Linked DNA regions of Homo sapiens: region 1 is linked to region 2. Evidence: fine-mapped expression QTL. Tissue or cell type: whole blood. Region 2 holds a variant in brackets; the other region holds the start of a gene. All regions are shown on one strand. Distances are between the middles of the regions.

Region 1 (8,109 bases), 150 kb after region 2:
ATTTCCCCATATTTCCTTCTTTCCTGTTCCTCACCCTGATCACACTTGGTTTATTGATGGCAGTTCCACCAGGCCTAATTGCCACTCACCAGCAAAGGCAGGCTATGCTATAGTATCTTCCACATCTATCATTGAGGCTACTGCTCTGACCCCCTGCACTACCTCTCAGCAAGCCGAACCAATTGCCTTAACTCAGGCCCTCACTCTTGCAAAGGGACTACGCATCAATATTTATACTGACTCTAAATATGCCTTCCATATCCTACACCACCATGCTGTTATATGGGCTGAAAGAGGTTTCCTTACTACTCAAGGGTCCTCTATCATGAATGCCTCTTTAATAAAAACTCTTTTCAAGGCCGCTTTACTTCCAAAGGAAGCTGGAGTCATTCACTGCAAGGGCCATCAAAAGGCATCAGATCCCATCGCTCAGGGCAACGCTTACGCTGACAAGGTAGCTAAAGAAGCAGCTTAGCCTTCCAACTTCTGTCCCTCACGGCCAATTTTTCTCCTTCTCATCTGGTCACTCTCACCTACTCCCCCACTGAAACTTCTACCTATCAATCTCTTCCCACACAAGACAAATGGTTCTTGGACCAAAGAAAATATCTTCTTCCAGCCTCACAGGCCCATTCTATTCTGTCGTCATTTCATAACCTCTTCCATGTAGGTTACAAGCTGCTAGCCCTCCTCTTAGAACCTCTCATTTCCTTTCCGTTGAGGAAATCTATCCTCAAGGAAATCACTTCTCAGTGTTCCATCTGCTATTCTACTACTCCTCAGGGATTGTTCAGGCCCCCTCCCTTCCCTACACATCAAGCTCGGGGATTTGCCCCTGCCCAGGACTGGCAAATTGACCTTACTCACATGCCCCAAGTCAGGAAACAAAAAAACCTCTTGGTCTGGGTAGACACTTTCACTGGATGGGTAGAGGCCTTTCCCACAGGGTCTGAGAAGGCCACCGCAATCATTTCTTCCCTTCTGTCAGACATAATTCCTCGGTTTGGCCTTCCCATCTCTATACAGTCCGATAACGGACCGGCCTTTACTAGTCAAATCACCGAAGCAGTTTCTCAGGCTCTTGGTATTCAGTGAAAACTTCATACCCATTATTGTCCTCAATCTTCAGGAAAGGTAGAATGGACTAATGGTCTTTTAAAAACACACCTCACCAAGCTCAGCCTCCAACTTAAAAAGGACTCTGTCAAGGATAGAGCCCCAAAACTCACCAACCAAGCAGGTAATTATGCTGAACCCCCTTGAGCACTCTCTAATTGGATGTCCTGGGTCCTCCCAATTCTTAGTTATTTAATACCTGTTTTTCTCCTTCTCTTAATTCAGACCTTGTGTCTTTCATTTAGTTTCTCAATTCATACAAAACTGCATCCAGGCCATCACCAATCATTCTATACGACAAATGCTCCTTTTAACAACCCCACAATATTGTCCCTTACCACAAAATCTTCTTTCAGCTTAATCTCTCCCACTCTAGGTTCCCACACACCACCCCCAATCCCACTTGAAGCAGCCCTGAAAAACATCGCCCATTATCTCTCCATACCACCCCCAAAAATTTTCGCTGCCGCAACACTTTACGACTATTTCGTTTTATTCTTCTTGTTAACGTAAGAAGACAGGAATGTCAGGCCTCTGAACCCAAGCCTGCATGTGTACATCCAGATGGCCTGAAGTAACTGAAGAATCACAAAAGAAGTGAAAAGGGCCGGTTCCTGCCTTAACTGACCCCTGACCTAGCAACTGATGTTATCTACAGATTATAGAAAGACATTGTGAAACTTCCCGGTCTGTTTCACTCTGACCACCGGTGCATGTCATGTACCCCCTGCTTACTCAATCGATCACGACTCTCTCACGCGGACCCCCTTAGAATTGTGAGCCCTTAAAAGGGACAGGAATTGCTCACTCGGGGAGCTCGGCTCTTGAGACAGGAGCCTTGCTGATGCTCCCAGCCGAATATACTCCTTCCTTCTTTAACTTGGTGTCTGAGGAGTTTTGCCTATGGCTCGTGCTGCTACCATCCTGCCTGCACCCAGGTGAAACAAACAGCCTTGTTGCTCACACAAAGCCTGTTTGGTGGTCTCTTCACACGGACGCACATGACAGTGGTGGCAGGCGCCTGTAATCCCAGCTACTCGGGAAGCTGAGGCAGGGAGAATTCCTTGAACCCGGGTGACAGAGGTTGCAGTGAGCTGAGATTTTGCACTCCAGCCTGGGCGACAAGAGCAAAACTCCGTCTCGAAAAAAAGAAAAAAGAAAAGTTCACAGTGATGATGCCCACCAAAATCAAATAGAAGGTCTCACACATCCAGGAAACTAGAGTAGGGGATGAGATGGGAAAAGGATCTACAGGAGCTTCAACTGTGACAAAATGTTAAGAGCTGAAAAAGTTGCTGATGAAGATACACTGTGATTTTTTCAGAGCATTTTTTTTGCATCTACTACTGTAAAAATCAAATGAAAACAAAATCTAGACCAAAACGACTGTCTCCTTTAAGAAAGGAGCGATAGGCTAGATCTGAGAGGATGACTGTGGAGAATATTCGGACTCTGACTCAACGACCTAAACTGCCTCATTGGCTCAGTTACCTCCCTGGTCCCTGTATACATTTGAGTTTGCGATCCAACATAATTAACCAGTCGATCTGATTCCAAGTCAACCATTTAACAACCTGAGCACAAAATTTAAGCAGGCAGTTTCTTCCCTTGTGGGAAGGGAATGACAACTTCAACTTTATGGATTGTTGTGAGCGTCCCAATAACTTGTGTAAAACTTTCCTAAAACGTTAAGTGTGCCAGACACATACTGGTTTATATGGGTATCAGCTAATTCCTGGATCCAGCCTTTATTTCCACGGATCTAGGGAATAATTTTACATGGGGAAATATACCCCTCGAACCAAGGAGTTCCCCCAGGGCCGAAGCCTGACTTGGCAGGAACACAAAACACCTGAGGAGGGGCGCGGCGGCCCTAGCCTGGTGCGCATGCGCCACTGTAAAGGCCGTTAGGTCTGTCCCTGGCGCCCGATTAGAATATTTAATTCCAGTTGGAGCGTTTTTCCTCACCTTACTGTATTTTATTTCGGTAAATACCCACACATTTTAATTTCTGAGAGGCACAAATTCCTCTCAGACTCATTCAAATTGACCGAGTAGTCTTATAAGGTGCCTTTTGTCTCATTGTAAATCCTCAGTAAAGTTTGCAGTTTAGGATGATAACGTGATTTTTGCGTAAAAATAACAACTCATTTCACCTGAAAAGGACCACGACAGGAGCAGGGACTCGAGTTTCTTTTTATTCGGGCACTTCAGTAGTTACCTCTTGCTTGGGGGTGGTGCCGCGTGTGGACCCGATGGACCCCGGCGACGCCGCCATTTTGGAGTCTTCCCTAAGGATCCTCTACCGGCTTTTCGAGTCAGTGCTGCCGCCGCTGCCCGCGGCTTTGCAGAGCAGGATGAATGTGATAGACCACGTGCGGGACATGGCGGCCGCGGGGCTGCACTCCAACGTGCGGCTCCTCAGCAGCTTGTTACTTACAATGAGTAATAACAACCCGTGAGTTGAGGCGGGTAGCTGCCTGGGGCTGAGGAGAAAGCGGCGGCGGTCTGGGAGCGGGGGCTCAGGGCACGTGGGAACAGGCGGGAAGGAGCGGCCGCCGGCGCCAGCGGAGGCTCCGGGGTCTGCGAGGGCGTCCTGGAGCGGAGCAGACTTCGGAGCGCAAGTTGGGTTCACTGGGTGCCGGCGTCAAGTCCCGCGGGGATGTGGCGAGCGGCGGCTTGGAGACATAGAAGGCAGAGGCTCTGAGGACGACCCAGGCGAGGGTTTCCTGAGGCACCTGTCGCGGGGCAGCGCGACTGTCACATCGCTAGGCTGAATCCTTCCCTCTCGGCTCCTTCCAGAAGAACGTTTTTTTCTCTCGCTGCAGCTCAGGGACCCAGCCTCCTGGTTTTTATGCGCTAGCCCCCGCATCTGAGATTGGTCCCCCCGTTAAGTGTATCAGGAGGGTCCACTTTCTGGCCTTGGGAAACCCCTGAAAACGGGGCCGGGCGCGGTGGCTCACGCCTCTAATACGAGCCCTTTGGGAGGCCGAGGCGGGAGGATCGCTTGAGCCCAGGAGTTCAAGACCAACCTGGGCAACATAGGGAGACCCTGCCTCTACGAAAAGTAAAAATTAAACAATTAGCCGGGCGTGATGGTGCGTGCCTGCGGTCCCAGCTACTCGGGAGGCTGAGGCAGGAGGATCGCTTGAACCCAGGAGGTCGAGGCTGCAGTGAGCCGTGATCGCATCATTGTCCTTTACCGTGGGCGACAGAACGACTGCCTGTCTCAAAAAAAGGAAACGGGAGACTCCATTAATGGGTGGGCGTGGCGCCTTTCATGTTTCCTTGAAGCACTGAGCTGATTCCATCCTTGAGTGCATGTCCCTCTCCTGCTTAATATCCTTTATTGGCCGGGCGTAGTGGCTCATGCCTGTAATCCCAGCACTTTGGGAGGCCGAGGCGGGCGGATCACGAGGTCAGGAGATCGAGATCATCCTGGCTAACACAGTGTAACCCCGTCTCTGCTTAAAAAATACCAAAAAAATTTAGCCAGGCGTGGTGGCGGGCGCCTGTAGTCCCAGCTACTCGGGAGGCTGAGGCAGAAGAATAACGTGAACCCGGGAGGCGGAGCTTGCAGTGAGCCGAAGTAGCACCACTGCACTCCAGCCTGGACGACAGAGCGAGACTCCGTCTCAAAAAAAAAAAAAAATCCTTTATTGCACTTATGAAAATTCTTTCCCATGGCCTCTGAAGGCAAATATCTGCCCTCCACTCTCTGCGACTTCATCTCATTACTCTGTTCACTGCTCTCTAGCCTCCCTGGCTATTCTGTTATTTGTTTTTATTTGTTTATTTATTTTTATTTTTTTGAGACAGCCTCGCTCTGTCGCCCATGCTGGAGTTGAGTGGCGCAGTCTTGGCTCACTGCAGCCTCCGCTTCCTGGGTTCAAGCGATCCTCCTGCCTCAGCCAACCAAGTAGCTGGGATTACAGGCGAGCGCCACACGCCCAGCTAATTTTTGTTATTTTAGTAGAAACAGAGTTTCACTATATTGACCAGTCTGGTCTTTTTTTTTTTTTTTTTTTTTTTTTGAGACGGAGTCTCGCTCTGCACGATCTTGGCTCACTGCAAGCTTCGCCTTCTGGGTTCACGCCATTATCCTGCCTCAGCCTCCCGAGTAGCTGGGACTACAGGCGCCCGCCACCGCACCCAGCTAATTTTTTTGTATTTTTAGTAGAGACAGGGTTTCACGATGGTCTCGATCTCCTGACCTCGTGATCCGCCCGCCTCGGCCTCCCAAAGTGCTGGGATTACAGGTGTGAGCCACCGCGCCCAGCCGACCAGTCTGGTCTTCAACTCCTGACCTCTGGTGATCCCGCCGCCTCGGCCTCCCAAAGTTTAAGGATTACAGGCGTGAACCATCGCTTCTGGCCTCTTTGTGTTATTTGAATGCACCAAGCGTGTTCTCTACTCTGGGCCCTTGTACTTGCTGTTCCTCCTGCGACGGTCCTCATCTCAGCGTTGCCTCCTCCTTCAGGTTTTAGCCTGGATATCTCTCCTAAAGAGCCTTCTCTGACTCCCAGGACTCTCGGGTACTCCCACTTTTCTACCCTTCGCATCACCCACCAATTGAAAGCGCAGTGGCTGTGCGCAATAAGCACTCACATGCTTATTGAGTGTGTTGAGGAAGTGAGTACAACCTCAGGGAGGTGAAATACCCTTGTCCAAGTTCACACATCCAATAAATGGAGGAGTACGATGCCTGGACCTGGTCTTCTCTGACTGGAGAGTCTCCATTCTGAGCCACCAGTCTGCTACCTCCAAATGGCGTTATAATGGAAACTTTTACTCTGTAGATGTATTAGTGTTTGGCCTGCTGTAGAAGCTGGTCTAGGTCAGAAGGGAAAAGTCCTTTAAGTGCTTACAATGCAGCTGCTGCTGCCCATTGGATTTTCATTAGTGCACTTTGGTGTTTTGTTTTGTTTTGCTTTTCAGACGGAGTCTTGCTTTGTTGCCCAGGCTGGAGTGCAGTGGTGCGATCTCGGCTGACTACAGCCTCCACCTCCCAGGCTCAATCGATCCTCCCACCTCAGCCTCCTGAGTAGCAGGGATTACAGATTCGCACCACCACGCCCAGCTAATTTTTTTTTTTTTTTTAATAGAGATGGGGTTTCATCATGTTGGCCAGGCTTGTCTGGAACTCCTGACCTCAAGTGATCCCCATGACTTAGGCCTCCCAAAGTGCTTGGATTGCAGGCGTGAGCCACCGAGCCCAGCCTCATTAATGTGCTTTGGACCTTACTAGTGAGACCCACATTTTGCCACCATCCACTTCATGTTGACAGGAGCCCTGGTCTCTGTCAGCCTTATGTGTTTATGCTGGAGCCTTTCACTTGGTTCTGAGTGATTTGCCAAAGCATACAGTTTCCACGTTTGGAGATTTAGGCCCTAGTTACTCTTAGTTCTTAAAGATGTTACAGGATAGTTTGAAACAGTTTAATTCTCTGGCTAGACGAAGTTTAGCCCATGCTTTTTCATATTGGGTTAGATTGGCAGTTTCCTAGCTTCAGGACATGTTTAAGTTCTGACCTTCATGATTTATACTTTAAAATTTCTTGTGGAATAGGAATAGACACTGTTAAATTCAAACAGTGGAGAAGGGGCATGCAGATCAGTATCTTTACCTGAGTCTTGAACCTCACCCCAACATTTCCTTTCTCCAGAGGCAATAACTATTTTTTCGTGTGTCATTACAGAGATAACTTAATGCATGTGTAAGTAGACATGTATCTTATATGCATATCTGAATGCTTTCTGTGGATGTAATAATACTTTTGTATCTAAGCATCAAATGGTTATTTCTCACTACATACATAGAATCACAGAGTTTGAAGAGAACTTAAGTCATCTAGACTATACTCTTTTTGTTGTTTTTTTTCTGTTTTTCTGGGGAGACTGAGTCTCACTCTGTCGCCAGGGCTGGAGTGCAGTGGCGTGATCTCGGCTCACTGCAACCTCCGCCTGCTGGGTTCAAGCAGTTCTCCCTCAGCCTTCCAAGTAGCTGGGATTACAGGCGCCCACCACCATGCCTGGCTAATTTTCGTATTTTTAGTAGAGACGAGGTTTCAACATGTTGGCCAGGCTGGTCGAACTCCTGACCTCAGGTGATCCTCCCTCCTTGGCCTCCCAAAGTGCTGTGATTACAGGCGTGAGCCACCGCGCCTGGCCCCTTTTTTTTTTTTTTTTTGTCTGAGACAGAGTCTCTCTCTCGTCACCCAGGCTGGAGTGCAGTGGTGGGATCTTGGCTCACTGCAACCTCCACCTCCCAGGTTCAAGCGATTCTCCTGCCTCAGCCTCTAAGTAGCTAGGATTATAGGCATAAGCCACCGCACATGGCCACAATAATGCAATTCTGTGGGTTTTAGTGTATTTACAAAATTGTATGATCATCACCATGATCTAACTCCAGAAGGTTTTCATTATCCCAACAAAAAGAAACCGTGTCTATTAGTAATCACTCTCCAATTGTCCCTTCCTCCCGCAAACACTAATGTATGATGCCTATTTTTTTTTTTTTTTAAGAGACAAGATCTCACTATGTTGATCAGACTCTAGGCTCAAGCAGTCTTCCCACCTCAACCTCCCAAAGTGTTGGGATTACAGGTGTGAGCCACTGTGCCTAGCTTGTTGAGAAATTAACTATCTACAGAATTATTCGACTCGGCTGGGCGCAGTGGCTCACGCCTGTAATCCCAGCACTTTGGGAGGCTGAGGCGGGTGGATCATGAGGTCAGGAGTTTGAGACCAGCGATGGCCAACATGGCGAAACCCCGTCTCTACCAAAAATACAAAAATTAGCTGGGCGAGGTGGCAGGTGCCTATAATCCTAGCTACTCGGGAGGCTGAGGCAGGAGAATTGCTTGAACCCGGGAGGCAGGGGTCGTAGTGAGCCGAGATTGTGCCACTGCATTCTAGCCTGGGCGACAGAGTAAGACTCCTTCTCAAAAAAAAAAAAAAAAGAATTATTCAGCTCACTCTGTTCTTTCATAT
Region 2 (8,109 bases):
CTTGAGCTCAGGAGTTTGAGGCCGCAGTGAGCTATTACTACACCACTGCATTCCAGTCTGGGTGACAGAGTGAGACCCCATTTCTTTTTTTTTTTTTTTTTTTTCCCCTGAGGCTGAGTCTTGCTCTGTCGCCCAGGCTGGGGTGCAGTGATGCAATCTTGGCTCATTGCAACCTCCACCTCCCAGGTTCAAGTGATTCTCCTGCCTCAGCATCCCAAGAAGCTGGGATTACAGGCACGCACCACCACACCCAGCTAATTTTTGTATTTTTAGTAGAGACGGGGTTTCACCATGTTGGACAGGCTGGTCTTGAAATCCTGACCTCAAGTGATCTGCCCACCTCGGCCTCCCAAAGTGCTGGGATTACAGGCGTGAACCACCACGCTGGGCCCGAGACCCCATTTCTTAAAAAAAAAAAAAAATTTTTTTCTTCTTATAAACACTTAATGATGGCAGACACCCAGAATTACTCTTTTTGCTTCCCTTTTTAACTCTTAACTGTAGAAACCAGGCATGGTGATTTGTGCTTGTAATCCCAGCACTTTGGGAGACTGAGGCAGGAGGATCACTTGACCCCAGGAGTTTGAGACCAGCCTGGGCAACATAATGAGACCGCATCTCTACAAAAAAAATTTTTAAAAAAATGAGTTGTGTGTGTTGGTGCATTCCTGTAGTCATAGCTACTCTGGAGGCTGAAGTGGGAGGATCCCTTGAGCCCAGGAGTTCAAAGTTGCAGTGAGCTGTGTTTGCACCACTGCACTCCAGCCTGGGTGACAGAGCAGGATGCTGTTAAAAAAAGAAAAAGGGAAAAAGCATCAGTCTATGGAAAACTTAATAAAATACTTTGTAAAAACATAAATACTGTAACTATTTTCTAATTGCTCGTTTTGCTTCATAAAACTGACATTTCCATTGAAAAGATAAAACTAGCCTGGGCACGGTGGTTCACACCTGTAATCCCAGCACTTTGGGAGGCCGAGGCGGGCGGATCATGAAGTCAAGAGTTTGAGAACATCCTGGCCAACACGGTGAAACCCCGTCTCTACTAAAAATACAAAAAATTAGCGGAGCGTGGTAGCTACTTGGGGGGCTGAGGCGGGAGAATCACTTGAACCTGGGAAGCGGAGGTTGCAGTGAGCCAATATCGCACCACTGCACTCCAGCCTGGGCGACAGAGCGAGACTCCGTCTCAAAAAACAAAAACAAACAAAAACACTAAAGGATTTTTCTGTGCCCTATGGTCTCTTCTCAATCTTTTGCTCAGCTATTTCTGATATGTAACCATTATCTTAATCTAATAGTGATTTTAATTGGATTTTGGGTCAAGGGAAACACTTAAGCTAGATGTGTGCTCACAGAATGTTATTAATGGAGACATAAGATGATTACAGTGAATTAAAGGAAATAGCTTCTATATTCGGTGCAACCTCTTTATCTTGGCATTCAAGGCCCTTCTAGTCATTAATTCAGCCTCCTTTTTAGCTTCACTTCTCTCTACCTCCATAGAGATTATATCATTCTGACAAACTGGATACCCTACCACTAAGGTATCAATTCTCAGATTTTCTGGCCCCAACTTGCCTTGCCAGCCGCAAACTCATAGTTCCTCACTTTATACACAACACTTCCACAAAGATGCCCTGCTGGCACCTGAAGTTTGACATACCCAAGACAGAATTAAATGTCTTTTAAAGGCATTTACACACCCTTGCCAACTGTAGAATAATCTAATCAATATTTTCTAATTCCCCAAATCCAGAAACAGTAGTTCCCTCTTATTTGAGGTTTCAATTACCCACTGATGTGTTTTGGCATTGTCCCCACTCAAATTTCATCTTGAATTGTAGTTCCCATAATAATCCCCATAAACCCTCATGCTGCTATTGTGATAGTGAAGTTTTCATAAGATCTGATGGTTTTATAAGGGGCTTTTCCCCCTTTGCTCAGCACTTCTCTCTCCTGCTGCCATGTGAAGAAGGATGTGTTTGCTTCCCCTTCTGCCATGATTGTAAGTTTCCTGAGGCCTCCCCAGCCATGCAGAACTGTGACTCAATTAAACCTCCGTCTTTTATAAATTACCTAGTCTCAGGTATTTCTTCATAGCAGCATGAGAATGGACTAATATACCCACATTACCTAACAATAATACAGACAGAGACCACATTCACACAACATTTATTATAGTATATTGTTATAATTATTCTGTTTTATTATCGTTGTTAACCTCTTGAGTATGCCTAATATATGTGTTAAACTTGGCCAGATCCTGTGGCTCATGCCCATAATCTCGGCACTTTGGGAGGCCAAGGTGTGAGATTGCTTGAGCCCAGAAGTTTGAGACCAGCCTGGACAACATAGTGAGACCCTGTTTCTACAAAAACTTAAAAAAAAAAGTAGCGGGGTGTATCAGGGTGTGTCTGTAATCCCAGCTACTAAGGAGGCTGAGGTGGGAGGAATACTTGAGCCCAGGAGTTCAAGACTGCAGTGAGCTATGATCAGGCCACTACTCCAGCCTGGGCTAGAGTGAGACCCCATCTCTTAAAAGAAAACAAAACTACTACTAAGTCATTTTAGTTTTTCTTTTGTTGGTACTAAGTTTTTGGAATCCAGAATGTATTTTACACTTCATAGCAAGCACTTCTCAATCCAAACAAGTGAGATTTTAGACTCAATAGCCACATGTGGCTAGTGGCTCCCATGTTAGACAGCACAGGTCAGTAGCATAAAGAACTTTAGAGTTCTTGAACTGGCATTCTTGATTTTCTACAACTTTCGCTACTGCCCTTCATTTTTCAGCTTCTCCCTGCTCACCCAAGCCCCAGCATCTAGTTGTCTGCCTTTCTTTTCCTCTTGTTATCCTTCCCTGCCGTGGAAATCTGGCTGACCCCTGCCAGGGCCTATCCGAATGCCACTTTCAGAGCAGGCTGGCACTGTTCTTGAGGCGCTGCATTCTCGTGGTGTCCGTAAGCACTAACCACTGGCTGTTGACCCTCCTGCAGCAGTGTTTATGGGAGCCGTTTGTCTGGTTTCTCTGTGAGAAGTCTAGCACCCCACTAGCAGGGGAGCTTCTCAGAGACCGGCTTTCTCAGCCGTCTTATTTCCTAGCGCAGCATGCACAATGTGGTGGTCCACGTGTGGCCTCCATTTGCTCTTAGGGTATTCTTATTCTTATCCTTTGCTGTTTGATAGTTGTGTTCCTGACATCTTTGGGATCTTAAGCAATTTCTCCTTTAACAGTTTTCTTTACCTTTGACATGTATTCTGAATGAAATTTCCCTTTATATCTGGATCAGTTCCACTGTTTAAAGGGTATTCTTGCTCTTTGCAGTCTGAAGCTTTTGCTTATGCAATAGAGGACATATTAATTTCTGTGTAGAAACAACCACCTAATATGAATAAAATTAGGTTTCATATGTACGTGTAGTAGGTTATTCTAGTTTTAGTCTGATTCTCATCCCAAATACAACTCTTCCCCTTATATAATTTAGTTATATATATGCACTGTATTAAGGCTTTTTTCCCTGCAGCTTTATTGAAGAGTTTATATGCTTTTTGAATTTCTCTCTCCCCT[A/G]AAGAGATTTGGTCAGTGGTGTTTTGCTTGGCATCCTTTGCCCGTGTAAAAAAGCAAACAGGTGCCCAAAAGGTTGTGCTGTATTCTGGGAGAAATCTGATTAATGTTGAAGGGCTGTGTCAGGTCAGACTCAACCTGCTGACAGATTATTTAGTGAGTGCGAGGATCGAGGATCAACTCTAAACGTTATCTTAGATTTTAATGGTTTTCTTGTGAAGAGCATTTGCAGATGAAACCAATTTGTATTTAAAGTTAATTGTAGTTGTACCAGAGACTACTTAAGAAGAAATTCTTCCCTGAAGCAGGCAGTGGTTTGAAAAGAATGAATGATTCATCAGATAGTGTTGCAAGGCTTATAATTATATTCTGTGTTTTAACATAAATTGTTGTGTTTTAAATTATGGTGAAATCTTACTCCTAGTAAAATAAGAGTTTCTCCAAAGAAGTTCCTATTGAAATGATCTTAAATTCTTTTAATATAAGTTTCCCAAACCTCTTCACAACTCCTTGAAAAACAATGAAATGTGCTGTTCCTTGTAAGATAGATCCCTAGTTAGCCCGGTTGCTTCTCTTTCCCTCACCCCTCAATCCACGTGTTCTGTTTCATGGATACCAAATGTCTGCACGCCTCTAACCACACTGCCAGCAGATTGCGAGTGGACTATGAAATGGATCTCTTACTTAAACTCCTTCCGCTCTTGCTCTCCACACAGCAGGCAAAAGGGTCTTTTTTCTTTTTAAACTTGTTATCATTGTTATTATTTAAATGTTGTGTTATGGAAAATTTCAAATATATATCAAAGTAGAGAGATGGGTGTTCTTCTTATTCAGCTTCAACAACGATCCATTCATGGCCAGTCTTCTTTCATCTGTGCTTCTGTCACTCCCCCTTCAACCCCTTAAATATTTTGAAACGAATCCCAGAGTTTTTATTACTTTAATTAGCTAATTTGGAATTGCCCTGTCATGAAATTTGGTTTATTGGTTGGTCACATAGGTGGGGAAAGTTGCTGTCCCAGTGGTGATACACTATTTGTTGCCTTCTTTATGTCTTCCAATTCTGTTTCCTCTTACTTTTTCACGATGTGTTCCCTTTCTTTTTGTTAACTGCCATCCCCAGAGAAATAGTTTCACATGTCCAATTCATGTTAAGCCAATTTTTCAGGGATGTATATATAGGCACTCTGCTACTTTTGTACCAAATACATTCTTAAAGTTGAATGTACAAAAAATAAATGTGTGTATGGGAAGGATGTTTCATGCTCAGAAAGTTTTAAAAATTAAAAAATCCCTGTTTTAAAAAATCATATGATACATGCTCATGATAAAAATAAAATTAATACAGAATGGTATGAAGTAAAAGGCAAAAATTCCCATTTTGTTCATGGATCGTTTTCAGTTCCTTATTTCTAAAGCAACCATTGCTAATATTTCTTATGGATCCTTCCAGAAAGGCCATTTAAAGCCTTAATAATGTATATTTTTGACATTTTCTCTCAGTGTCTTTGAATTTAGTAGATAGAAATTGGTTTTAGTGTTGGAAAGAATAGCTTGGTGTTTTGCAAGAGTTTGAGTAGAAGATTGTATGATGGCTTTGATATTTTATTGACTTTCATAAACACTAATTTCCTCTTGATAAAGGAGCTCTAAGCAGACTCTGAACTCATCAGCAACTCTTTGGGCCTACGAAAATCTCTATACTAGTACTATCCAGTAGAAATATAATGTGAGCCACATATGTAATTTTAAATTTCCTAATATTCATATTAACTAAAAATAAAAAGAGGCCAGGCATGGTGGCTCACGCCTGTAATCCAAGCATTTTGGGAGGCTGAGGCAGGAGGATCACTTGAGCCCAGGAGTTCAAAATAAGCCTGGGCAATACAGTGAGATCCTGACTCTGTATTGCCAGACAAACAAAAACTAGCTGGGTGTGGTGGCATGACCCCGTAGTCCTTGCTACTCAGGAGGCTGAGGTAGGAGGATCACTTAAGCCTGGGAGTTCAAGACTGCAATGAGCTGTGATTGTAACACTACACTCCAACCTGGACAACAGAACAAGCCACTGTCTCTAAAAATAATAATAGTTAATTTTTTAAAAGGTGAAATTTGGCCGGATGCAGTGGCCGATGCTTATAATCCCAGCACCTTGGGAGGCCGAGATGGGCAGATCACTTGAAGTCAGGAGTTTGAGACCAGCCTGGCCAACATGGCAAAACCCTGTCTCTACTAAAAATGCAAGTCAGGTGTGGTGTCGAGCACCTGTAGTCCCAGCTAGGGAGGCTGAAGCAGGAGAATCACTTGAACCTGGGAGGCAGAGGTTGCCATGAGCTGAGATCACGCCACTGTACTCCAGCAGCCTGGGCGACAGAGCGAGACTCTGTCTCAAAAAAAATAGGTAAATAAAGAAAGGTGAGCTCAGTCTTGATAATGCATTCTCTTTGGTGCATTATATCTAAAATATTCTTTTTCTGTTTCATTTTTTGAGACCAGGTCTTGCTGATCCACCCACGCTGGAGTGCAGTGGCGTAATCATGGCTCACGGTAGCCCCAACCACTGGGGCTCAAGCAGTCCTCCCGCCTCAGCCTCCTGAGTAGCTGGGACTACAGGTGCACACCACTATGCCTGGCTAATTTTTTTATTTTTAGTAGAGTCAGGGACTCACTGTGTTGTCCAAGCAGGTCTTGAACTCCTGAGCCCAAGTGATTCTCCCACCTTGGCCTCCCAACGTGCTGGGATTATTGGCATGAGCCACCATGCCTGGCCCAAAATACAATTTCAGTATGTAAGTAATGAATATAAAAATTAGAGATTTTGGGGGCCGGGCGCAGTGGCTCATGCCTGTAATCCCAGAACTTTGGGAGGCCGAGGCTGGCAGATCATGAGGTCAGGAGATGAGACCATCCTGGCTAACACGGTGAACCCCTTCTCTACTAAAAATACAAAAAAGCCAGGCGTGATGGCACGCACCTGTAGTCTCAGCTACTCGGGAGGCTGAGGCAGGAGAATCCCTTGAACCCAGGAGGCGGAGAGGTTGCGGTGAGCCGAGATCACGCCACTGCTCCAGCCTGGTGACAGAGCGATGGAGTTTCACTCTTGTTGCCCAGGGTGGGATGCAATGGCGCGATCTCGGCTCACCGCAACCTCCACTTCCCAGGTTCAAGCAATTCTCCAGCCTCAGCCTCCTGAGTAGCTGGGATTTCAGTTGCCTGCCACCACACCCATCTAATTTTTTGTATTTTTAGTAGAAACGGGGTTTCACCATGTTGGTCAGGCTGGTCTCGATCTCCTGACCTCAGGTGATCTACCTGCCTCAGCCTCCCAAAGAGATTTTACTTTTTTTCATACTAAGTTTTCAAAATCCACTGTGTGTGGTTTTGTTTGTTTGTTTGTTTTTTTGAGACGGAGTCTCGCCCCATTGCCCAGGCTGGAGTGAAGTGGCACGATCTTGGCTCACTGCAAGCTCTGCCTCGCGGGTTCACACCAATCTCCTCCCTCAGCCTCCCAAGTAGCTGGGACTACAGGCGCCTGCCACCACGCCTGGCTAATTTTTTGTATTTTTAGTAGAGACGGGGTTTCACTGAGTTAGCCAGGACAGTCTCGATCTCCTGACCTCGTGATCCGCCCGCCTCGGCCTCCCAGAGTGCTGGGATTACAGGCGTGAGCCACCGCGCCCGGCCCACTGTATGTTTTATACTTAGAGCATGTCTCAAGTTGGGCTTCCCTCATTTCGGGTGCTCAGTAACCATGTAAGGAATGGCTGTTGTATTGTACAGTACCGCCCTCTACAGGGTAGAAGGAGAGGGGATGGGATATGTTCTCAGTTTTGTTCTTTATTTCCCAGCGATTGACCAATGTTTGGAGTTAAAAGGTTGCCGCTTTTGATGTTCTTTGTGATCTCCAGCTCTGACTGAATTGTATCGTCACTAGCATCAGCACTTTGCTTAAAAATCAATTTTCATTCTTATAAAAGACAAAGTATTAATGACACAAATATGTCTATACACAGATGCTAATCCTGCTGAAATTGAACTCTTGGCTGGTAGGCAATGCCACCCTGTGGTAGCTCAAAAGTTTATTCATCAATATATGAAAGGCCAAATTCTAAGTAGTGAATGTGGCTTAGGAGTGTTAGTGTAGAATACATTAAACGTGAGTGCTTTTTATTCTGAATTTTGGAGTGAATGTATGTAGTAGCATGTAGTGAAATTAACTGTTAGGAGAAAACAGAGGTAAGAATTCCTGAGAAGTTGGTAAGATTGTTCTTTTACTGTAATTTTTGTTTTTTCTTCAGGGGTTGCAGATGGTGTAGGAGGCTGGAGAGACTATGGAGTTGATCCATCTCAATTCTCAGGGACTTTAATGCGGACGTGTGAACGTTTAGTAAAAGAAGGACGGTTCGTACCTAGTAATCCCATTGGAATTCTCACCACAAGCTACTGTGAGTTGCTGCAAAATAAAGTCCCTTTGCTCGGTAAGTGGGTATCTTATGTGTTTTCCTCTAAAGAAGCCCCCTAGATAGTTAAAAACAAAACCA

The links. PIP is the estimated chance that this variant, and not a neighbour inherited with it, causes the effect.
Region 1: ANAPC7 starts here. The variant in region 2 is fine-mapped to the expression of ANAPC7 in whole blood (TOPMed, PIP 0.91).

What each region holds. Positions count from the first base shown.
Region 1 is chr12:110,398,992-110,407,100 of GRCh38, reverse strand. It overlaps ANAPC7 (anaphase promoting complex subunit 7), which reads left to right and starts at 3,393. Exons shown (of 11, transcript NM_016238.3): 1 at 3,393-3,574. The coding sequence starts at 3,474.
Region 2 is chr12:110,551,726-110,559,834 of GRCh38, reverse strand. PPTC7 (protein phosphatase targeting COQ7) reads left to right here. Exons shown (of 6, transcript NM_139283.2): 2 at 7,867-8,046. Among named protein-coding and RNA genes, the nearest start is that of PPTC7, 28 kb to the left of the region's middle. The variant A/G (reference allele first, on the strand shown) is at 3,572.